Homo sapiens: one gene and its partners. The protein of the gene in region 2 interacts with the protein of the main gene of each other region in a pairwise test. Each region holds a gene or a part of one and is shown on either strand. Other genes may lie near its edges. The genes, in order: APPL1, RHEBL1 and ATXN1.

Region 1 (7,105 bases), on a different chromosome or scaffold from region 2:
TTGGATGCCTTTTTTCCTCTCTTACCTGATTACTCATCTTCCATCTAAAAGGTGGAAAGGCTTTTTGTTTTTCTGCATTCAGTATGATACTAGCTGTGAGTCTGTCATATATGGCTTTTATTATGTTGAGCTATATTCCTTCTATACCAAGTTTTTTTGAGGGTTTTTAATCATGAAGGGATGTTGAACTTTATCAAATGCATTTTCAGCAGTAATTGAAATGATTAAATAGTTTTTGTCCTTTATTCTGTTGATGTGATGTAGCATATTGATTGATTTGCATATGTTGAACTATCTTTGCATTCCTGGGATAAATCCCACTTGGTCATGATAAATGATCTTTTTAATGTGTTGTTGAATTTGGTTTGCTAGTATTTTGTTGAGGATTTTTGCATCAATATTCATGAGATATATTGGCCTGTAGTTTTCTTTTTTTGATATGTCTTTGTCTGGTTTTGGTATCAGGTAATACTGGCCTCGTAGAATGAGTTTGGAAGTATTCCCTTCTCCTCTATTTTTTGGAACATTTTGGGTAAGATTGGTATTAGTTCTTCTTTAAATGTTTGGTAGAATTCAGCAGGAAAGCCATCAGGTACTGGGCTTTTCTTTACCAGGAGACTTTTTATTATGGTTTGGATCTTGTTACTTGTTATTGGACTGTTCAGGTTTTGGATTTCTTCGTGGTTCAATCTTGGTAGGTTGTATTTGTCTAGGAATTTATCCATTTCTTCTTGATTTTCCAATTTACTAGCATGTAGTTGCTCATAGTAGCCACGAATGATCCTTTGAATTTATGCAGTATCAATTGTAATGTCACCTTTTTAATCTCCAATTTTATTTGAGTCTTCTTTTTCTTAGTCTGGCTAAATGTCAGTTTTATCTTTTCAAAGAAACCAACTTTTTGTTATGTTGATCTTTTGTATTGTTTTCTTCATGTCAGATTCATTTATTTCTGCTCTGATCCTTATAATTTCTTGTAGTATTTTTATAGTTTTGGGTCTTATGTTTAAGTCTTTAATGTATTTTGAGTTGATTTTTGTGTATGGTGAGAGGGAGGGGTCTGGTTTCATTCTTCTACATGTGGCTCTCCAATCTTGCCAGAACCATTTATTGAAGAGGATATCCCTTCCCCAGTGAAAGTTCTTTGTCACTTTTGTTAAAGATCAGTTGGCTGTAAACAAGTGGCTTCGTTCCTGGGTTCTCTATTCTGTTCCATTGGCCATGTGTCTTATTTTTATAACAATCCCCTGCTGTTTTGCTTACTATAGCCTTGTAATATATTTTGAAGTTAGGTAATGTGATGCCTCCAGCTTTGTTCTTTTTGTTTAAGATTGCTTTGGCTATTTGCATTGAACCTATAGATTGCTTTGGGCAATATGGTTATTTTAACTATATTATTCTGATCCATGAGCATGGGATGTTCTTTTGTGTCTTCAGTCTCTTTCATCAGTGTTTTGTAGTTTTTTGTGTAAATAAAATTCTTATATAATTCTAAGATTTTTGGAAAAAACTCCCAAATTTTGCCTAGGCTTACTGAGCTGCTTGAGCAAAGCATCTCTGAATAGAGCCAAGCTGATGGTTTGGGCCTTCTGACTCTACAGACCCATGTTTTCCCTGCCACTGATAGCTGGTGCAATCTTTTAGCCTCTCATTTATGTTGGGAACCAAACATTATGTTGGGAACCAAAACCAGCCATTTTCAGATGTCTTCAGCTGAGAATAGCATTAGCAGCTGCATGCTTCTTCCTCGTAGGCCTTACTGTGACAGTAATGAATTTGACATAACAAGAAGTGGGGTATATATGAAGGTGAGAGTCAGCAGTGGAATCCTGTAGACTTCAAGGAAAACATACAAAGCCTTGGTTTGGGGGCTTGAGCATTCTTAAATATGCTTTTGCTTGAAGCAATGTATTAGGATTAGTTATAAAACTAGTTCCATCAGTTATTTGGATACTTGACATTTTTGCTTTGTTGTGAGAACTGCCTGAATTTTTCATACTTTTTCTCTTTTTAGATATGTGATTCTGTTGGACTGGCAAAACAGATAGCTTTGCATGCTGAACTGGTAAGAATCCAAGATGTGGCTGGGCACAGTGGTTCACACCTGTAATCGCAGCACATTGGGAGGCCGAGGCGGGCAGATGACTTGAGGTCAGGAGTTCGAGACTAACCTGGCCAACATGGTGAAACCCCATTTCTACTAAAAATACAAAAATTAGTTGGGTGTGGTGTCGTGCACCTGTAATCCCAGCTACTGAGGAGGTCTGAGGCACGAGAATGACTTGAATCCGGGAGGCGGAGGTTGCAATGAGCCGAGATCACACCACTGCACTCCAGCCTGGGCAACAGAGCGAGACTGTATCTCAAAAAAAAAAAAGGAATCCAAGATGCTTGATTTTCCAAGAATGTTAACTAAAATAGTATATTAGCTCTTTCATATTAGCAAGTAAATAAAATGATTTTGCTAAGCAAGGTTAACAGTGATACTATTACCAACATAGCATTTAGAATTTGGATAATTGTTTACCATTGAATATAAACTGTTGATGTGCTTTCTTATGTATAAATGCAAAAAAATATTGAAAGGTTACCATGTGATATTAACTGAAATGTCTAAAATTTAAAGTTATTTCATATTTAATTCATTAGTTTTATTCATCTGTTCTTTAGGATCGTAGGGCATCAGAAAAACAAAAAGAAATAGAGAGAGTAAAAGAGAAGCAACAGAAAGAACTCAATAAACAAAAACAGATTGAAAAGGTATACAGTCCTAATGTCTGGATCTTTATGTGTTGTTTGTGAAGACTTAATTCAGCACTATGACTTTCAGATTTGAATTTCCAAATGAAGGGCTGTTTCTGCTTGTTCAGCCACTTCATAAACAGATGATTCATACCATAGCAGAAAAGGGTCACATCTGTTTTTTGATATGATGTTTACATTATAGTTACGTTGACATGTAATATGACTGTTTCAAAAATATACCAGAACTTTAATATTTCAGAGGAGGTTGTCTCTGTCAAAGCAGTTGAGAGGCTGTGTAGACTTAACTGCCATTGCTGAAAGCCATTTTGCCTTCTATGGGGGGGAAATAAATAAATATATATGTTATATGAAATATATAATGAAATGTATATTTTTAATATTGCCAGGAGTGTCAAATCATTGTCCATCCAACAGAATAATTTTAAAAGACAAATTTCAGAGCAAAACTTGAAGAATGCATTAAATGATCCATGAAATTGTAAGAGCGTGTTATGGGTTGTAGATTGACAGTAGGAATAGAAAAGAGGAGACAGCTGGGATGCTTAGAACAGATCAATAAGCATTGGCTGTGGGCTGGCTCTCTGGACAAAGAAGAGGGAAGTGGCAAAGATGACATTGAAGTGAGGCTTTCTTGATAGGCGAGGCTGAGGGAAGGTGACACCTGATTTAGCAAAGATGAATTGGACAGGGATGGAGAAAAGGGCTGGAGAGGGGAAGGGAAAGGAGTGTGGGGGTGATCCCTTTCGAGGGTTTTACTATAATATATAGTGAGAGATGATTGATGATGGGCTTTATTTGGTTGTTGGTCATAAAAAAAGAAAGATAAAATATTAGATTTTAGTTTGAATGCTGGCTTTTATAGGATGGTGCCAAAATTCATTTTGGTGTTGTATTGTTTGGGTGTAGCTTTTCTTTTTATCAAGTTGTCAGAAGTATGCATACATATTTATGACAGAAGAAGTGGCTCTCAAGAATGTATCTTAACTGCATAATTTGCCATTTGACTGCAGACAAGTAACTTAGTTTCTTTTTTGTCTTTTCCACTAGGACTTGGAAGAACAAAGTCGGTTGATAGCTGCTTCCAGTAGACCAAACCAAGCCAGTAGTGAGGGGCAGTTTGTTGTCCTTAGCAGTAGCCAGTCAGAAGAGAGTGATTTGGGAGAAGGAGGAAAGAAGAGAGAATCAGAAGCATAAGCTTATACTTTTGGTAGATATTCCCCCTTGGAATTTGACAGTTTCTATGGTGAAATGGCAGAAGGTAACAACTATGTTGAAATATCAAGGAGGAGATTAAGCTTTATATTTGCTTATTTGTTGTAGCTACATTTTAAAAAAAAGATTGAACTTGATGACTTAGGTTTGCATTGATCTTTTTTCCCCCTTAAACATAATGTACTATGTATTAACATCTAAAGGAAACCTGCTCATCTCCCTGAAGCAGACTGCTGAGGAATTACATTTGCTCAAGAATTTTTTCCGTCAAATTGTGAACTTTTAATTCTTGCATTGTAATTGGCTGTGTCCATAAGAAATCATTTATTCTTCAGGCTTAGACATTCATGGATATGCTTTTCTTTCATTAGGAACATTTTGCTGGTGATGAGGAAGCATTTAGCTGAATAAGTTTAAAGCCCTTTATACAGAGAATTCTACAAGTTTGCAAATATTTTAACAATATTAAATGTGCAATAGAACTTTTATAAAATAATTAGAACAGAGATTTTACAGTTAAGGTTTCAAATTGTGGCAGGTGGTACTGTTGATCTCAGGGTACTTTCTGGGATTGCTCACATTTCTCTAATGTACTGCACTTGATGCCAGTAGGAAAGAAGCTTAAGTGTCTTCAGTTCAAGATTGATAGAGCCCTTGGCATTTTATTATCACATTCTTAGTTCTCAGGTTGGGACTTCAATTACTGCTGCAGAGCAGTAGTGGTTAAAAATAAGATATTGGAATTTATTAAAAGATTTTTGTTCAATACATTTTAGATTAGGATTGACAAGTAAAGATACTGCTATGGAATGATACATTGTATTTTCTGCATTGTGTGAAATAGTTTTTATTGAAAGTCAAGTGACATTTCAAAAGAAGTTCTATAACAATTATGTTTCATGCTTAAAGTAAAAATTCCCAGAGTTTAGTTTAGAAAATGTAATCTTTTAAATTTCAGACTGATATATTCCCAGTATTTTCATAATGCCATGTTTTGATAAAGTACTGAATCACCACTTTATATCCACAAAGGCAAATAACTAATGTATGATAATAGAATAATTTGCACTAATTATTGTAAATATGTCTACTCTTCAAATGAGTAAAAGGTCCAATTTTGTGAAAGATTGAAAATGAATTGAATGCCTAGTAGAGTATAGGAGAAGTTGACCAAGGAAGGATTTAACCTGGTGCCAAGGTTAAAATAACATTTCTCTACTGCCTATTGTTTATGTTAAACCTTAATTTTTTTTCTGTAATCACTTTTAACACTGCTAATAGAAATTATGTTTTCATGTGTTTCACATGAAAAAGTATATATATACAAAGTTAATATAGTGGGTAAAATACTTTACATAGTCACACATTTACAAATTTTTCAAGAGGTTAGCCACTAAGACTTTAATAATTTTACAAGGGAAAAAGCCTTTTTTTTTCTTTGATATACAGTTTTTTCTTCTTAGTTCTGCATTAGAAATGGCATCTGTTTTAGGTCTCAAAATATAACTCAGCTGTTTCACACTGTATATGTACATTGTTTTCTGTAGGAATAGGATAATGATATATAGGATCATGATATTCCTTCTATCCATGTGCCAAATGGGTGTAATGTTTATTTACTGATGCTTTATGTTACCAAAACATACAGTAAAAAAGTAGAAATTTATGAAATACTTTTGATAAAAAGTTTATTTTGTGCTTACCAAAAGGAATGCTTTCACAATAGTGTATCAGTTCTTTTGTTTTGTTAAAGTTGGAATTTATTCTGTTGCCAGCATTTAAGTAGTCATGGCAAGTCCTGTTTTTAAGACCTTTTGGAGACTGGAGCTTTCTGTTCCATTAAGTCTTTTGTTTATACTACAAATTGTCACCTCACTTAGTTCAGATGAAATCTGTTACTCTACAAGGAAGGTGTTCATCATTAGGAGGCAGCTTTACTAAGCTGGTGCTTTGCATGGTAGCAAGTGCTGCCCTTTATCAGCACCCTGGGTCATAGTGTAGGCTAGAGTTAAGGCACTGGCAGACTTAGGGATGCTGGACAGACCTGTAGTTCGTTTTAAGTCATGTTCACAGGAATTTCTACAATAATAAACCCATCATCTCCATAGGTCAGATCGAAGTGCATTCCAATGCTAAATAGAAGTTATGAGTGGGTTTAACAATTTTAGATGATTCAGCTTTTGTTCCATTACTGTTGAACTATATGAACTATTCCATTACTGCAGAGATTTAAGTATCTGTTTTAATAAGCTCTTTTTGTTATTTAAAGGCTGCCCATGGGTTTCTGCCTAGTGGTAAAGCTGATTGTTACCCTCCTTTGAAATCCCTTCTAGTTCTGAGATGCTTTGAGGGTAACTGGATTCGATTTTGGGATATCTTTTCTCACATTCAGACTTACACTTAATGGTGTTAGAAATCAACAAAACTCCTTTTTAAAAAGAAAAGATATTAAGCCTGCCTACTTCTACAATGCATTCTGTTACCTATTTGAACAGTATGTTTGTAACTATGGCAATGAAGTCAGTAGATAGGAAACCAGTTATTCCTTCTACCTTTAAAAATTTTGAGAACTTGCCAACCAGGGATTAAAGCTATTATCTTGAACAGAGTCCCTAAAGCTAGTCTAGTTTTTGCCACATCTGCAATGATTATTGTTTAATTTCAAAAGAATCCTCAGGCTCTACAATCTAGGGGTGGTAAATGTGTTTCCACTATACTTGGGAAAAGGTCAGTAGGATGTGCATCCTAGGGAAGATAAAATCGTATATGGTAAAGGCATTTGAGTTAATTTTGCATTATATCTAGGAACCATATTATTTAAAATTTGAATCCTATTAATGCTGAGAGATCCTAAGAGCTAGTATGTTGTAAAACCTGCCACCTGAATAAAATGAAAAAAAAAGTGTTTTTTTGAGACAGAGTCTTGCTCTGTTGCCCAGGCTGGAGTGCAGTGGTGTGATCTTGGGTCACTGCAAACTCCGCCTCCCAGGTTCACGCCATTCTCCTGCCTCAGCCTCCCGAGTAGCTGGGACCACAGGGGCCCACCACCGCGCCCGGCTAATTTTTTGTATTTTTAGTAGAGACGGGGTTTCACCGTGTTAGCCAGGATGTTCTCGATCTCCTGACC
Region 2 (8,096 bases):
TTTTCACTTTTCCCAGAGATACTTAAAACAGTTTTCTGGGAACATCTTATCTTTATTTTGTCTCAGTTGTTTGAGACATAGCAATGTATGATGCTGTCCTAGAAATGTTATTTCAGGCCAGGCTTGGTGGCTCATGTCTGTAATCTCAGTGTTTTGGGAGGCTGAGGAGGGATTGCTTGAGGCCAGGAGTTCAAGACTAGCCTGGGAGCGACCCCATCTCTACAAAAAAAAAAAAAAAAAAAATTAGCTGGGCATGGCAGTGCATGCCTGTATAGTCTTAGGCTACTCAGGAGGCTGAGGCAAGAGGATCACTTGAGCCCAGGAGTTATGGGCCACAGTGAGCTATGATGGCACCACTGCACTCCAGCTTGGGTGGCGGAGTGGTACCCTGTCTCTAAAACACAAAAACAGGCTGGGAGCGGTGGCTCACATCTGTAAACCCAGCACTTTGGGAGGCTGAGGTGGGTGGATTGCTTGAGTCCAGGAGTTTGAGACCAGCCTAAACAACATGGTGAAACCCCATCTCTACTGAAAATACAAAAATTAGCTGGGCATGGTGGTGCATGCCTGTAGTCTCAGCTACTCAGGAAGCTGAGGTAGGAGAATCACCTGAGCTGAGGAGTAGAGGCTGCAGTGAGCCAAAATTATGCCACTGCACTCCAGCCTGGGCAATTGGAGTGAGACCCTGTTTCAAAAATAAATAAATAAAAAAAAGTAAAAATAATAAAAAACAAAAAAAATCTTATTCCAAGCCCATTTATCTAACATTAGGATGAATTGCTTCCTTTATTTATATTATTATTATATAAATAATATATAATAAATATGTTTATTATCTATTAAATAATATTTATATATAATATTTTAAAATATTTTTTTGACTTATCTCCAAGTTCTATTTTTCCTTTATTTGATCCTATTTTTTTGATCTTTACTAAATAAACCATTTGTACATTACTTTTTTTTTTTTTGAGACAGAGTCTCGCTCTGTCAGCCAGCCTGGAATGCAGTGGCGCAATCTTGGCTCACTACAACCTCCATCTCCCAGGTTCAAGTGATTCTCCTGCCTCAGCCTCCCGAGTAGCTGGGATTACAGGTGCCTCCCACCATGCCCGGCTAAATTTTGTATTTTTAGTACAGACAGAGTTTCACCATGTTGGTCAGGCTGGTCTCAAACTCCTGACCTGATGATTCACCTGCCTCAGCCTCCCAAAGTGCTGAGATTACATGTGTGAGCCACTGTGCCCGGCCTATGCATTACTTTTTAAAGTGATTGATATTTAATGAACAACTATTTAATCAACCAATATCTTGGTCCTAAAATGTGCAGGTTTTATAGATTGGCTCATGAAACATTTATTTTTTTGTTTTTTTGGAGATGGAGTCTCGCTCTGTTGCCCAGGTTGGAGTGCAGTGGCGTGATCTCGGCTCAGTGCAACCTCCACCTCCCAGGTTCAGGCGATTCTCCTGCCTCCGTCTCCTGAGTAGCTGGGACTACAGGCATGCACCACCATGCCTGGCTAATTTTTCTATTTTTAGTAGAGACGGGGTTTCACCATGTTAGCCAGGCTGGTCTCAAACTCCTGATCTCAGGTGATCCGTCTGCCTCAGCCTCCCAAAGTGCTGGGATTACAGGCGTGAGCTACTGTGCCCGGCCCCAGCTAATTTTTTATATTTTAGTAGATACCGGGTTTCGCTGTGTTGCTCAGGCTGGTGTCGAAACCCTGAGCTCAGCTCAGGCAATCCACCCGCCTTGGCCTCCCAAAGTGCTAGGATTACAGGCGTGAGCCACCGTGCCTAGCTTCTTTTTTTTTTTTTTTTTTTTTTTTTTTTTTTGATACAGGGTCTTTGTTGTCCAGGATGGAGTGCAGTGGCACAAACATGGCTCACTGCAGCCTCAACCTCCTTGGGCTCAGGTGATCCTTTCACTTCAGCCTTCCAAGTAGCTTGAGACTACAGGCACGTGCCACCATGCCCGGCTAATTTTTCTTCTTTTTTTTTTCTGTATTTTTTATAGCAACAGGCTTTTGCCATGTTGCCTACCTAGGCTGGTCTCGAACTCCTGAGCTCAAGCAATTCACCTGTATGGCCTCCCAAAGTCCTGGGATTACAGGCCTGAGCCACCACGTCAGGCCAAAACATTTATTTATAATCACATTGTCTTTTGCCTTCCTTTACTATAGACATTGGAAAAGAAAATGCTAAAATTTCCAGGTTCCCTTACAACTAGAAATGACTATATAAAACAATCTTGTTCAATGAGATGTAGGTGAATATCTGCTGTGAGAGCTTCCCTTACCAGGTAAAAAGAAAAAGTCACAAGAGGAGAAAGCCCTTTGCCTTGGCTCTTTTGCTTTCTCTCTGATTCAAAACAGGAGAATTCAGATGGTTTAATAAAGAGACTATTTACAAAGATGTGGGCAGGGTATAGGGAGACCACAACAGATAGAGCAATGCCCCAAGGTGAATAACAGAAAAGAGGCTGATACTGCTATAGGCATAAAGGCTGAGGGGAGTCACTGAAAACCAGGAGAGAGCTGTGTGTGTGTGTGTTGGAGGAGGCAGCTGCCTTGAGAGGTACTGTGACCTTCAATGGGGGACAGAGCCACTCTCCTCTGTCCATTGAATCTTCTGTGTGTGCTTTCCTTTGGCTGAGCTTCACTGAAAGCCAGGAGACAAGGTCTGCCTCCTGGACATAAATCTGGGTGGAAAAGAATGGAGAGTTCATATGGACGGGACAAGCAGTATAAAAGGCATCTGTTATTTATTTCTGTATCCTAGTGTGCAACACATAGTAAGAGTGCCTGGCACAAAGTAGAAGATGAATATATATATATATATATATATATATTTTTTTAAGATGGAGTCTCACTCTGTCTCCCAGGCTGGAGTGCAGAGTACAATGGTGCAATCCCGGCTCACTGCAACCTCTGCCTCCCGTGTTCAAACGATTCTCCTGCCTCAGCCTCCTGAGTAGCTGGAATTACAGGCATGCACCATCACGCACGGCTAATTTTTGTATTTTTAGTAGAGACGGGGTTTCACTATGTTGGACAGGCTGGTCTCGAACTCCCGACCTCAAGCGATCCGTCCACCTCAGCCTCCCAAAGTGCTGGGATTACAGGCATGAGCCACCATGCCCGGCCTAGGGCTTTTGTGAATATTAAATGAGATAACAATAAAATGCACCTGGCACATAGTATAGTCGAACTCTCTATAAATCTAGGTGATTTCCTTCCTTTCTTCCCTCCTCTACCAATCCTTCCACAAGTCATTTTAACCTTAGCTTCAGAATATCCTGAATTCTCAACTTCATTCAACATGATCACTCTAGTCAAGCGCTCTCATCTCTCACCTGGACTACAGGTAACAGTTTCCTCGCCAATCTCCCTGCTTCCTTTTGCTCCTGTTACCCTCAAACCCCAATCTATTCACTACAGCCAGGGAGATTTTTTAGAAAGACAATTTAGATCATGTCATGCCCCAGCTTAAATACCTTCAAGTACTTAGAATTAGCCCAGACTCCTTTATGTGGCCTGGCCTCTGCCATTCTCTTAGACTTCATCTGCTTTAGGCTAACTGGCTTTCTTTTTTTCTTCCCCTCTTCCTGGAATTTACCCAATTTATTTCCATCTTAACGCCTTAGCATTGGTGGATTCTTCTTGTGAAATCTCCTAGTTGGTTCCTTCAGATCTTAGTTTAAATGGGGTTTCCTATGAGAGAAAGTATCACTAAAGTGGTCATCTCAGCCAGGCTCGGTGGCTCACGTCTGTAATCCCAGCACTTTGGGAGGCCGGGTCAGGTGGATCACTTGAGGCTAGGCGTTCGAGACCAGCCTGGGCAACATAGCAAAACCCCATCTCTCCCCAAAATACAAAAATTAGCCAGTCTCATAACCCTGTCTCAAAATAAATAAAGAAAAAAAATTAAAAATGCTGTATTGTCTTTAAAAAATAAAGTGGTCGGCCGGGCGCGGTGGCTCACGCCTGTAATCCCATCACTTTGGGAGGCCGAGGCGGGCGGATCACGAGGTCAGGAGATGGAGGCCATGCTGGCTAACACGGTGAAACCCCGTCTCTACTAAAAATACAAAAAATTAGCCGGGCGCGGTGGCGGGCGCCTGTAGTCCCAGCTACTCTGGAGGCTGAGGCAGGAAAATGGCGTGAACCCGGGAGGCGGAGCTTGCAGTGAGCCGAGATAGAGCCACTGCCCTCCGGCCTGGTAGAAAGAGCGAGATTCCGTCTCAAAAAAAATAAAAATAAAAATAAAAAAATAAAAAAAATAAAGTGGTCATCTTTCATCACACCATCTTCTACAGCACTTAACACTCTCTGATATTTCCTTGTTGTATGTTTGTTTCTCCCTTCATAAGAGCAGACACATTGTCTGTGATGTCCATGTTCTGACCCCAAAGCTGGAGCAATGCCTGAAACATGTAGTATATACTCAGTATTTGTTGAAAAATGAATATTTGAGGATCATGATGATGAAGAAGAAACCTCAGACTACTTGATCATAAATTCTAGCAATTTCTGCAAGAATAAGAATTGCAGTTTGAAATTAGATGCTGGAAGACTGGAAACCTTGATAGGTCTGGGGCTGAAGGCTGGGGGAAGCAGAAGGAATATACTAGAACTTTGGCGGTTTTCTCCCTATCTAAGGACCCCAGAGACCATGCAAAAGGGAGGGCTAGAATCTTATGACCGGAAACCACAAAACGGGTATTTTCCATCCATAATTCTTCGAAGCCACTTCAGCTAGGCTGTAAATGCGCAAACGCCTTTAGGACCCCGGGTTCCTTTCTGTTTCTTTATGAATGAACCGGCTCCAGTCTGCGCACGCGCAGCTCCCAGTTCTCCCGCTCCACGTGAGGCCCACCCTTCCCTCCTGCTGGCGGCACCGCCCTTACCCATTCTAATGGACCAATGGCGAGCGGCCTGGGGGGCGGAGCCCGGCGCGGCGCGGCTCAGTAGTTCCCCGGGCGCCCGGCTCCCTGGCGTTAGACGTGCTGTGTTGTGATCACGTGGGCAGCTCCGGGCGCGGCGCTTGTTTTGGTTTCCTTCTAACTTGCCCACGGCAGCTTCGGGGTGAGCGACTTTCCTGCACCAGCTGCCGCGCCTGCTCACACCCTGACCTCGTTTTCGGGCTCTCTGAGCCCGCAGTTCCGCAAGCCCCTGGGGCGGGCTCCTGCCATGCCGCTAGTCCGCTACAGGAAGGTGGTCATCCTCGGATACCGCTGTGTAGGTGAGTCTCCGCCCTGCAGAGCTCGGACGCGCAGCAGCTTTGTAGCCAGAAGAGGCGCGCTGCCGTGGGAACGCGACCCAGGGAGGAATGATGACATCGTAAGGATGGGGTTGTAGAGCGAGGATTGGAAGAGTGGAGGAATGGAAGAGTGGAGGATTGGAAGAGTTGGTGGTGTGTGGAGGCTGCAGGAAGCGGGAGCACTTAAGGGTTAATGCGGACCTGGCTGCGGGAATCTCAGAGTGGTCCCAGCGTTACTTTGGGGATAGGGGTGGGGTCACAATTTGAAAACCGGGACGCGGTCTCCGTGGGGACAGATAGTCGCAGGTGTCCTGGGGCGGGGCGGACTTGATCCTAGGGAATCTTGGATCTTCCTACGAGTGGGATGGGGTGGGGAAGGCGGCGGGAAAGGCTTCCTGCTGCGCTTCTGAATGCATCCGGTAGCCAAAGTGCGGAGACCCTGGGTGAAAAGAGGGTGAGGGTAGACACAAAGGATAGCATTGCTTGAGGCACTCACAGACTGTGGTGTTAATTTGGGGTCTCCTTTGGTCCTGGGCCACAGTCCGAAAGGACAGAGGATGTGAATGTGGATGGATGATTTGGATACAACTGTCACACTGCTCCCCACAGGGAAGACATCTTTGGCACATCAATTTGTGGAAGGCGAGTTCTCGGAAGGCTACGATCCTACAGTGGAGAATAGTGAGTAGACTTCTCCCCTAGTGTGCTGGTGGTATGCGACCCGGAGGGCTTGGATACCCCACCCAACTCCATAATTTATTTCTCTGGTGCCAAGGGGCTGATTTATTTAGACATTACATCTGATTTCTTCTTTAGCAATCCTGTTCGATGGATGGCTAGAGTATGGATTTTGCAAGATATTGAGTCTGGGATAGTTTAGATGTAGACATTAAGAACCTTAGCGTGTCTTTCCAGTTACCTGGATAACTCCCTGGAGCTGATCTATCTGTGTCACCCCCAAGGTTAAGAATGTAAGGGGAGGCTGGGCGCAGTGGCTCATGCCTGTAATCCCAGCACTTTGGGAAGCTGAGGCGGGCGGATGGATTGAGGTCTGGATTTCGAGACCAACCTGGCCAACATGGTGAAACCTCATCTCTACTAAAAATACCAAAATTAGCTGGGCATGGTGGCGCACGCCTGTAATCCCAGCTACAAAGGAGACTGAGGTAGGAGAATCGCTTGAACCCAGGAGGCAAAAGTGGCAGTGAGCCAAGGTCGTGCCACTGCACACCAGCCTGGGTGTCAGGGTGAGACTGTCTCAAAAAAAAAAAAAAAAAAAAAAAAAAGCTGGGCACCGTGGCTTATGCCTGTAATCCCAGTTCTTTGGGAGGCCAAGGCAGGTGGATCACCTGAGGTCAAGAGTTCGAGACCAGCCTGGCCAACATGGTGAAACCCCGTCTCTACTAAAAATACAAAAAATTAGCCGGACATGGTGATGGACATCTGTAATCCCATCTACTCGGGAGGCTGAGGCAGGAGAATTGCTTGAACCTGGGAGGCGGAGGTTGCAGTGAGCCGAGATCGTGCCACTGCGCTCTAGCCTGGGCAACAAGAGTGAAGCAATGTCTCAAGAAAAAAAAGAAAAAAAAAAAAGAATAAAAAGAATGTAAGGGGGAAGGGAGTGGGAGGGATGAAGATAAATTGATCAATGGGTACAAATATATAGTTTGATAGAAGAAATAAGACTTAGTAGATCAGTAGGGTGACTATAGCTTACAATAAGCTATTTTACATTTCAAAATAGCTAGAAGAGAAGAATTCAAATGGTTCTAGCATAAAGAAAAGCCAAATATTTAAGGTGATGAATATTCCAGATACACTTATTTGATCTTTACAAATTATATGAATGTATTAAATTGTCACATGTACCCTGAAACTTGGTACATCTATTATTCATCAATAAAACAAAAGTAATTACTTTATTTTTCTTTTCTTTTCAAGACAGTCTCGCTCTGTCACCCAGGCTGGAGTGCAGTGCCGCAATCTCAGCTCACTGCAACCTCCACCTCCTGGGTTCAAGCAATTCTCACGCTTCACCCTCCTGAGTAGCTGGGACTACAGGCATGCACCACCATGCCCAACTAATTTTTTGTATTTTTAGTAGAGACAGGGTTTCACCATGTTGGCCAGGCTGGTCTCAAACTCTTGGTCTTAAGTGATCCGCCTGCCCTGGCCTCCCAAAGTGCTGGGATTACAGGTGTGAGCCACTGCGCCCAACCAATAATCTACTTTAAAAAATGCTGCCAAAAAAAAAAAAAAAGGTAAGGAGACAGCCAGGTGCAGAGGTGCACACCTGTAGTTCCAGCTACTTGGGAGGCTGAGGTGACAGGATTGCTTGAGCCCAGGAGTTCCAGGCTATAGGGTGCTAAGAGTGCGCCTGTGAATAGCCACTGCTCTACAGCCTGGGCAACATAGCAAGACCTCATCTCAAAAAAAAAAAATGTAATTAGCCGGGCATGGTGGCAGGTCCCTGTAATCCCAGCTACTCGGGAGGCTGAGGCAGGAGAATAGCTTGAACCCGGGTGGCAGAGGTTGCAGTGAGCTGAGATCATGCCACTGCAGCCCAGCCTGGACAATAGAGTGAGACTCTTGTCTCAAAAAAAAAAAAAAAAAAAAGTCAGGGGACATACATCGCTGGTCCTATAAGGCACTTCACAGTCAAGTTTTCTTTTCTTTTCAGCTTACAGCAAGATAGTGACTCTTGGCAAAGATGAGTTTCACCTACATCTGGTGGACACAGCAGGGCAGGTACCAGTTGGGGTATGGTATCCAAATGTGGCAGTTCAGCCCTCGGAGATGAAGTCTGGTAGTCTTTGTGGCTCATCCGTAAAGTA
Region 3 (7,105 bases), on a different chromosome or scaffold from region 2:
TGTGGGGTTTTATTGGATCAGTGCTGCAGGAGGGCCAGCAGGGGGCGCATGGACTGGTTCTCTCTGAGTAGGTCTCACGCATGAGTTTTCCTTGCTCGTTGGTATGGAAATGTGGGAGCGTTTGGCATTCCCTTTCTTAAGAGTGAGTCTTGAAATTTAAAGATAAAAGTTCATTATTAGAACTTCTTTTTACAAGGGAAGGCTGTACAGAACACAGTTATTTGTCACTTACAAAAACCCTAGGTGGGCAGGGCGCAGTGGCTCACGCCTGTAATCCCAGCACTTTGGGAGGTAGAGGCTGGTGGATCATTTGAGGTCAGGAGTTCGAGACCAGCCTGGCCAACATGGTGAAACTCCGCCTCTACTAAAAATACAAAAATTAGCCAGGCATGGCGGCAGCCGCCTATAATCCCAGCTACTCAGGAGGCTGAGGCAGGAGAATCGCTTGAACCCGGGAGGCGGAGGTTGCAGTGAGCCGAGATTGGCACATTGCCCTCCAGCCTGGGCGACAGAGTGAGACTCCATCTCAAAAAAAAAACACCTGGGTTGCGAGAGTAAATAAGTGACATTACTCCTTCAACACTTCATTTCTTCAGCATAAGTGTTTTAGGGTTTTTTTAACCTTATTTTTCATTTCCGTCCCAGTCTTTAAGCGCCTCTCTTGTCATATGAGAAATTCTATTCTTACTGAAATGTCCTTTGATATCGAGACACCAAATTTCTAAACCTGCACCTTCCTAGATATCTGATCAAAATCATTAAGGATTGAGAACTTTCTGTTGTATCATTTGTCATTTCATTATGATGTTCATTGATGATGTTGGAGCAAAACCAATAAGGGCCATTAAATCATTGCCCCTTCCAAGCTGGCTGCAGTGGCTCATGCCTGTAATCCCAGCACCGGGAGGCCAAGTGGGTGGATCACTGAGGCCTGTTCAAGACCAGCCTGGCCAACATGGCAAAACCCCACCTCTACAAAAAGTACAAAAATTAGCCGGGTGTGGTGGCGTGCACCTGTAGTCCCAGCTACCTGGGAGGCTGAGGTGGGAGGATCACTTGAGCCCAGGAGGCACAGGTTGCAGCAAGCCGAGATCACGCCACTGCACTTCAGTCTGAGCAACGAAGCAAGACCTTTTCAAAAAAAAAAAAAAAAAAAGGAAGGAAGGAAGGAAAAAAATCATTGCCCCCTCTAAAAAATAGTTACAAAGTAGGGGGCAGAGTAGAGAAAGGGGGTTATGTTTCAGTAGGGATTTCAGTGTTGCTCCAACATGGACAAGGATTGAATGCTGAAGGCCGCTACTTTATTGTGTTTGTTTTAAAATCGGATCATTGGCTACACACAGTGGCTCATGCCTGGAATCCTAGCACTTTGGGAGGCCAAGGAAGGAGGATTTCTTGAGGCCAGGATTTCAAGACCAGCCTGGTTAACATAGCAAGACCCCATCTCTCCAAAGAAAGAAAGAAAGAAAGAAAGAAAATCAGATCATTGAAAAGAGGGTCTGGATGTGAGATACCAAAACCCAAGGGTGTGGAATTCCCAAAGCCCAATCCCACAGCTCTCAGAATCACAGCATGTTGCACTGTGCATACCTACAGCTGCTACCTGTGGAAGCAATCACATCCGCTGCTTGCTAGCCTGGGTCATGTCAGTTCCACTGATATTTGGCCTCTTGTCTGTTGGGCATTGGTTTGCCCACACAGCAGCAGTAACTCAGACTTCAGTGGTTAGTAAGAGACTGAGATACTTGACCATAAGAACTGGCTCCAGGGTCACCATTTGTATGTCCAGGTTTGAACACACTGATCTGATTTGTCTGAAAGAGCTGTCGTCTCTAGTGTTAATGGCGAGTTGTTACTTTCCAATGAGAAAGGGGACGGTGTGAAGGGGAACTTCAATGACAACTTGAAAAGGAAGAGAGAGATGGACAAACCAAGCATGTAACCCACTGAGAAAACATTCAGTGCACTAGCCCTATTTTTGTATGGTATTTGGGTTTTTTAACCATAATCAAATTCGGTTTTTAACAGTCTCACTCCGTCATCATATGAGTGGCTGTACTGGGAATTCTTTTGAAACTTGCAGAGAACAGGATTATTTCTGGCGGCCTCTGCTGAGTTGGCGTGTGTGTGTGTGTTTGTGTGTGTGTGTATTAGGGAGAGGAAATCGTAGGTCCAGTGTGGACCCAGAGCTAAGGGGAATCTTGGAGAGTAGTGGCTCTGGCAGATGAGGATTCAGAAATCGAGTGCAAGGACTGTTCTGGACTTTCACTGCTAACCTGCTTTTTCTCAGTGCCTGGCTCTGAGGGCAGGGTCCAGCTGGTGTCATGCTCTCCAAGGGCTTCATTTTATGTTCCAGCCAGGCAAAGGAGAGGTGAGAAATGGAACCAACATTTCTGAAAAGGAAATTTAAGAACTGCATCATCTGCCCTTGAAGAAGAAAAGGAGAAAAAAAAACAGGAGAGAGGGTATTGAGAACATCTTAGGGGAGTTGTTAACTCCATTAAAAAATATATGTGTTACAGTGTTCACTTGCCCAGTGTCTTCATAATCTTCCTTTATAATGTGCAGCTGCCACGGCTAGTGTTTTTGTTTTTGTTGTTGTTGTTTTGTTTCGTTTTTGGAGACAGAGTGTCGCTCTGTTGCCCAGGCTGGAGTACAATGGTGCAATCTCGGCTCACTGCAACCTCTGCCTCCTGGGTTCAAGCAATTCTCCTGCCTCAGCCTCTCAAGTAGCTGGGACTACAGCCGTGTGCCAGCTAATGTTACACCAGGCTAAATTTGTTTTTTATTTTTTATTTTTGGTAGAGACGGGGTTTCACCATGTTAGCCAGGATGGTCTTAATCTCCTGACCTCGTGATCTGCCTGCCTCGGCCTCCCAAAGTGTTGGCTAGTGTTTTCTCTGCTTCAGTGCTTGGGGTATGATTGGGTTATGGGAGTTCACACCGAGTCCAGGGCCTAGTCTTAATCTTGCCAAAGATGTTCTTTCCCCGGTGCTCATGTTCTGATGTCCTTTCCCTCCTTCCCTTTCTCCTCCCTTTCCTTTTCCCTTTGTCACTGCCCTCTTCCCTTTCCCAGCATCCAGAGCTGCTGTTGGCGGATTGTACCCACGGGGAGATGATTCCTCATGAAGAGCCTGGATCCCCTACAGAAATCAAATGTGACTTTCCGTTTATCAGACTAAAATCAGAGCCATCCAGACAGTGAAACAGTCACCGTGGAGGGGGGACGGCGAAAAATGAAATCCAACCAAGAGCGGAGCAACGAATGCCTGCCTCCCAAGAAGCGCGAGATCCCCGCCACCAGCCGGTCCTCCGAGGAGAAGGCCCCTACCCTGCCCAGCGACAACCACCGGGTGGAGGGCACAGCATGGCTCCCGGGCAACCCTGGTGGCCGGGGCCACGGGGGCGGGAGGCATGGGCCGGCAGGGACCTCGGTGGAGCTTGGTTTACAACAGGGAATAGGTTTACACAAAGCATTGTCCACAGGGCTGGACTACTCCCCGCCCAGCGCTCCCAGGTCTGTCCCCGTGGCCACCACGCTGCCTGCCGCGTACGCCACCCCGCAGCCAGGGACCCCGGTGTCCCCCGTGCAGTACGCTCACCTGCCGCACACCTTCCAGTTCATTGGGTCCTCCCAATACAGTGGAACCTATGCCAGCTTCATCCCATCACAGCTGATCCCCCCAACCGCCAACCCCGTCACCAGTGCAGTGGCCTCGGCCGCAGGGGCCACCACTCCATCCCAGCGCTCCCAGCTGGAGGCCTATTCCACTCTGCTGGCCAACATGGGCAGTCTGAGCCAGACGCCGGGACACAAGGCTGAGCAGCAGCAGCAGCAGCAGCAGCAGCAGCAGCAGCAGCATCAGCATCAGCAGCAGCAGCAGCAGCAGCAGCAGCAGCAGCAGCAGCAGCACCTCAGCAGGGCTCCGGGGCTCATCACCCCGGGGTCCCCCCCACCAGCCCAGCAGAACCAGTACGTCCACATTTCCAGTTCTCCGCAGAACACCGGCCGCACCGCCTCTCCTCCGGCCATCCCCGTCCACCTCCACCCCCACCAGACGATGATCCCACACACGCTCACCCTGGGGCCCCCCTCCCAGGTCGTCATGCAATACGCCGACTCCGGCAGCCACTTTGTCCCTCGGGAGGCCACCAAGAAAGCTGAGAGCAGCCGGCTGCAGCAGGCCATCCAGGCCAAGGAGGTCCTGAACGGTGAGATGGAGAAGAGCCGGCGGTACGGGGCCCCGTCCTCAGCCGACCTGGGCCTGGGCAAGGCAGGCGGCAAGTCGGTTCCTCACCCGTACGAGTCCAGGCACGTGGTGGTCCACCCGAGCCCCTCAGACTACAGCAGTCGTGATCCTTCGGGGGTCCGGGCCTCTGTGATGGTCCTGCCCAACAGCAACACGCCCGCAGCTGACCTGGAGGTGCAACAGGCCACTCATCGTGAAGCCTCCCCTTCTACCCTCAACGACAAAAGTGGCCTGCATTTAGGGAAGCCTGGCCACCGGTCCTACGCGCTCTCACCCCACACGGTCATTCAGACCACACACAGTGCTTCAGAGCCACTCCCGGTGGGACTGCCAGCCACGGCCTTCTACGCAGGGACTCAACCCCCTGTCATCGGCTACCTGAGCGGCCAGCAGCAAGCAATCACCTACGCCGGCAGCCTGCCCCAGCACCTGGTGATCCCCGGCACACAGCCCCTGCTCATCCCGGTCGGCAGCACTGACATGGAAGCGTCGGGGGCAGCCCCGGCCATAGTCACGTCATCCCCCCAGTTTGCTGCAGTGCCTCACACGTTCGTCACCACCGCCCTTCCCAAGAGCGAGAACTTCAACCCTGAGGCCCTGGTCACCCAGGCCGCCTACCCAGCCATGGTGCAGGCCCAGATCCACCTGCCTGTGGTGCAGTCCGTGGCCTCCCCGGCGGCGGCTCCCCCTACGCTGCCTCCCTACTTCATGAAAGGCTCCATCATCCAGTTGGCCAACGGGGAGCTAAAGAAGGTGGAAGACTTAAAAACAGAAGATTTCATCCAGAGTGCAGAGATAAGCAACGACCTGAAGATCGACTCCAGCACCGTAGAGAGGATTGAAGACAGCCATAGCCCGGGCGTGGCCGTGATACAGTTCGCCGTCGGGGAGCACCGAGCCCAGGTAACGTTAGCCAGGGTGGCACAGGGATGGGACACCACACCGTGATGCCATCATCATCTCCTGGCAAGACGAATTGCTTCTATGAGGCAGGATTAAGGGTTCTCGGGTACACCTAGACCTTAGACTCGGCCTTTCCCAACTGCGTTCTCTAGAAAAAATAAGCCCCATTTCCCCGTGATCTCTGCTGTGTGTAATGAATTAACCTCCATGCATGGAGAGTGGGGCTAGTTATGGAGTCCTTGAGACAATCCAGAAACTCACCACTCTAGTTATTTTTTGAATTCTGTGATTAAGATGAGGAACCCTGATTAGGAAACGCTGCTGGACTTCAGGTCCTTCTAGTGGTCATTCGGCACTTTTTCTTACCAGGAAAAGACAGAGGATGCCGTTGGAGTGAGGGGATTAGATGCTAAAGCAATCATATCCCATTGCAACATCCATGTTTTAAAATATGTCTTATTAGCTGGGTACAGTGGTATATGCCTTCGGTCCCAGCTACTCCAGAGACTGAGGCAGGAGGATCACTTGAGCCCAGGAGTTCGAGGCTGTAGTGAGCTATGGCTGAACCTGTGACTATCACTGCACTCAAGCCTGGGCAACATAGCAAGGCCCGGTCTCCAACATATATATAATGTCTTATTATTTAGGTATGATAAGGCCAACAGATAGATCAGCAGACAACTCTCTTTGACGAGATAATTTTTATACTCTCTGATCCCAAGAGGAAAGGGCACTCTACACCAAGAGGTGTAGAACACCGTAAAGTGGGGGGCACCTGGGGAAGCCCCAGGTGGGTCAGGAGGTGGAGGGAGTGAGGGGAAATGTGGCAAACAACAGCCTTTATTGTGGTTTCATGGGAGGCAGGGTAAACGGGTTTAGGATTGGTTAGAGTGGATAATTCCAGTGTGCTCTGGGGTGTAGGGGCTGTCCTTAGTTGTCTGGCTGCTGGTGCTGGGGTGATCAATACAGGTGGAAGGGCTGGGCACAGTGGCTCACACCTGTAATCCCAGCACTTTGGGAGGCTGAGGCGGGTGGATCACCAGAGGTCAGGAGTTCGAGACCGGCCTGGCCAACATGGTGAAACCCTGTCTCTACTAAAAATACAAAAATTAGCCGGGCATGGTGGTGTGTGCCTGTAATCCCAGCTACTCCAGAGGCTGAGGTAGGAGAATTGCATGAACCCGGGAGGTGGGGATTGCAGTGAGCCGAGATCAGGCCACTGCACTCCAGCCTTGGACACACAGCAAGACTCTGTCTCAGACAAAAAAAAAAAAACAGATGGAAGGCAGCCCTAAGTGTGATGGACCAATATAGGAGGCTGCTGGGGAGTGGGCTCTGGACTGGTTAGTTTGCATATGAAAGTCAGGCTCCTAGGAATTAGCTCTGGACTGGTTGGTTTGCATATAAAAGTCAGGCCTCTAGGAATTAGCTAATCCTAGGAGAGACTATACCTCTGGGATCCACAAGACACTAAAATATCAAAGCATCAGAAAATAAAAGCGTGGTTAATACAATCTGAGAAGTCAGGGCTGTCCCAGGTGACCTGCTGGGCTTGGGGTAAAGTCAGCTGTAGCCAAGATGAGTCACTGGAAGTATGGTTAACGCTCTTAATTTCCACAGGCTCCTTCAATCTACCCTTTTCCAGGTTCTTAGATCGATTACATGCATTTATTCCACAGCCCATTTCTTTCACTGCCCAAGTTGCTGGGAGTCCAGCAGGTTCAGCCTGCAGCTGAGAGCTTTCCTGGCTATCGAGCGTACTTTCTACAAGTGTTTCCATCTAGGATTTGAAAACATTCAAATGGGACAGAGCCTCCTTCCAGCTTGAGTTGAAAATAGTCATGAAATAGCTGCTATTTGGGACATTCAGATAAAATAAAACAAGAAAAAAAAGATAAACTAATTAATGGTTTGAATTGTTTTGGGCATTTTTTTTTTTCATTTTTGAGACA

The links.
Region 1: the proteins of RHEBL1 (region 2) and APPL1 interact in binary tests that used the Homo sapiens proteins (3 or more experiments, as listed by UniProt).
Region 3: the proteins of RHEBL1 (region 2) and ATXN1 interact in binary tests that used the Homo sapiens proteins (3 or more experiments, as listed by UniProt).

The regions. Positions count from the first base shown.
Region 1 is NC_000003.12:57,265,728-57,272,832, forward strand, and holds part of APPL1 (DCC-interacting protein 13-alpha), read left to right. Parts: intron 1-2,014; coding exon 2,015-2,065; intron 2,066-2,614; exon of another isoform or gene 2,615-2,670; coding exon 2,671-2,760; exon of another isoform or gene 2,761-3,813; coding exon 3,814-3,960; 3' UTR 3,961-7,105. UniProt on the Homo sapiens protein: Multifunctional adapter protein that binds to various membrane receptors, nuclear factors and signaling proteins to regulate many processes, such as cell proliferation, immune response, endosomal trafficking and cell metabolism.
Region 2 is NC_000012.12:49,066,882-49,074,977, reverse strand, and holds the start of RHEBL1 (GTPase RhebL1), read left to right. Parts: upstream 1-4,998; 5' UTR 4,999-5,192; coding exon 5,193-5,244; intron 5,245-5,803; coding exon of another isoform or gene 5,804-5,871; coding exon 5,872-5,943; intron 5,944-7,942; coding exon 7,943-8,010; intron 8,011-8,096.
Region 3 is NC_000006.12:16,324,442-16,331,546, reverse strand, and holds part of ATXN1 (ataxin-1), read left to right. Parts: intron 1-3,076; 5' UTR 3,077-3,115; coding exon of another isoform or gene 3,116-3,205; 5' UTR 3,206-3,236; coding exon 3,237-5,153; intron 5,154-7,105. Other genes in the region: uncharacterized LOC127903862, read left to right, coding at 3,116-3,205. UniProt on the Homo sapiens protein: Chromatin-binding factor that repress Notch signaling in the absence of Notch intracellular domain by acting as a CBF1 corepressor. Binds to the HEY promoter and might assist, along with NCOR2, RBPJ-mediated repression. Binds RNA in vitro.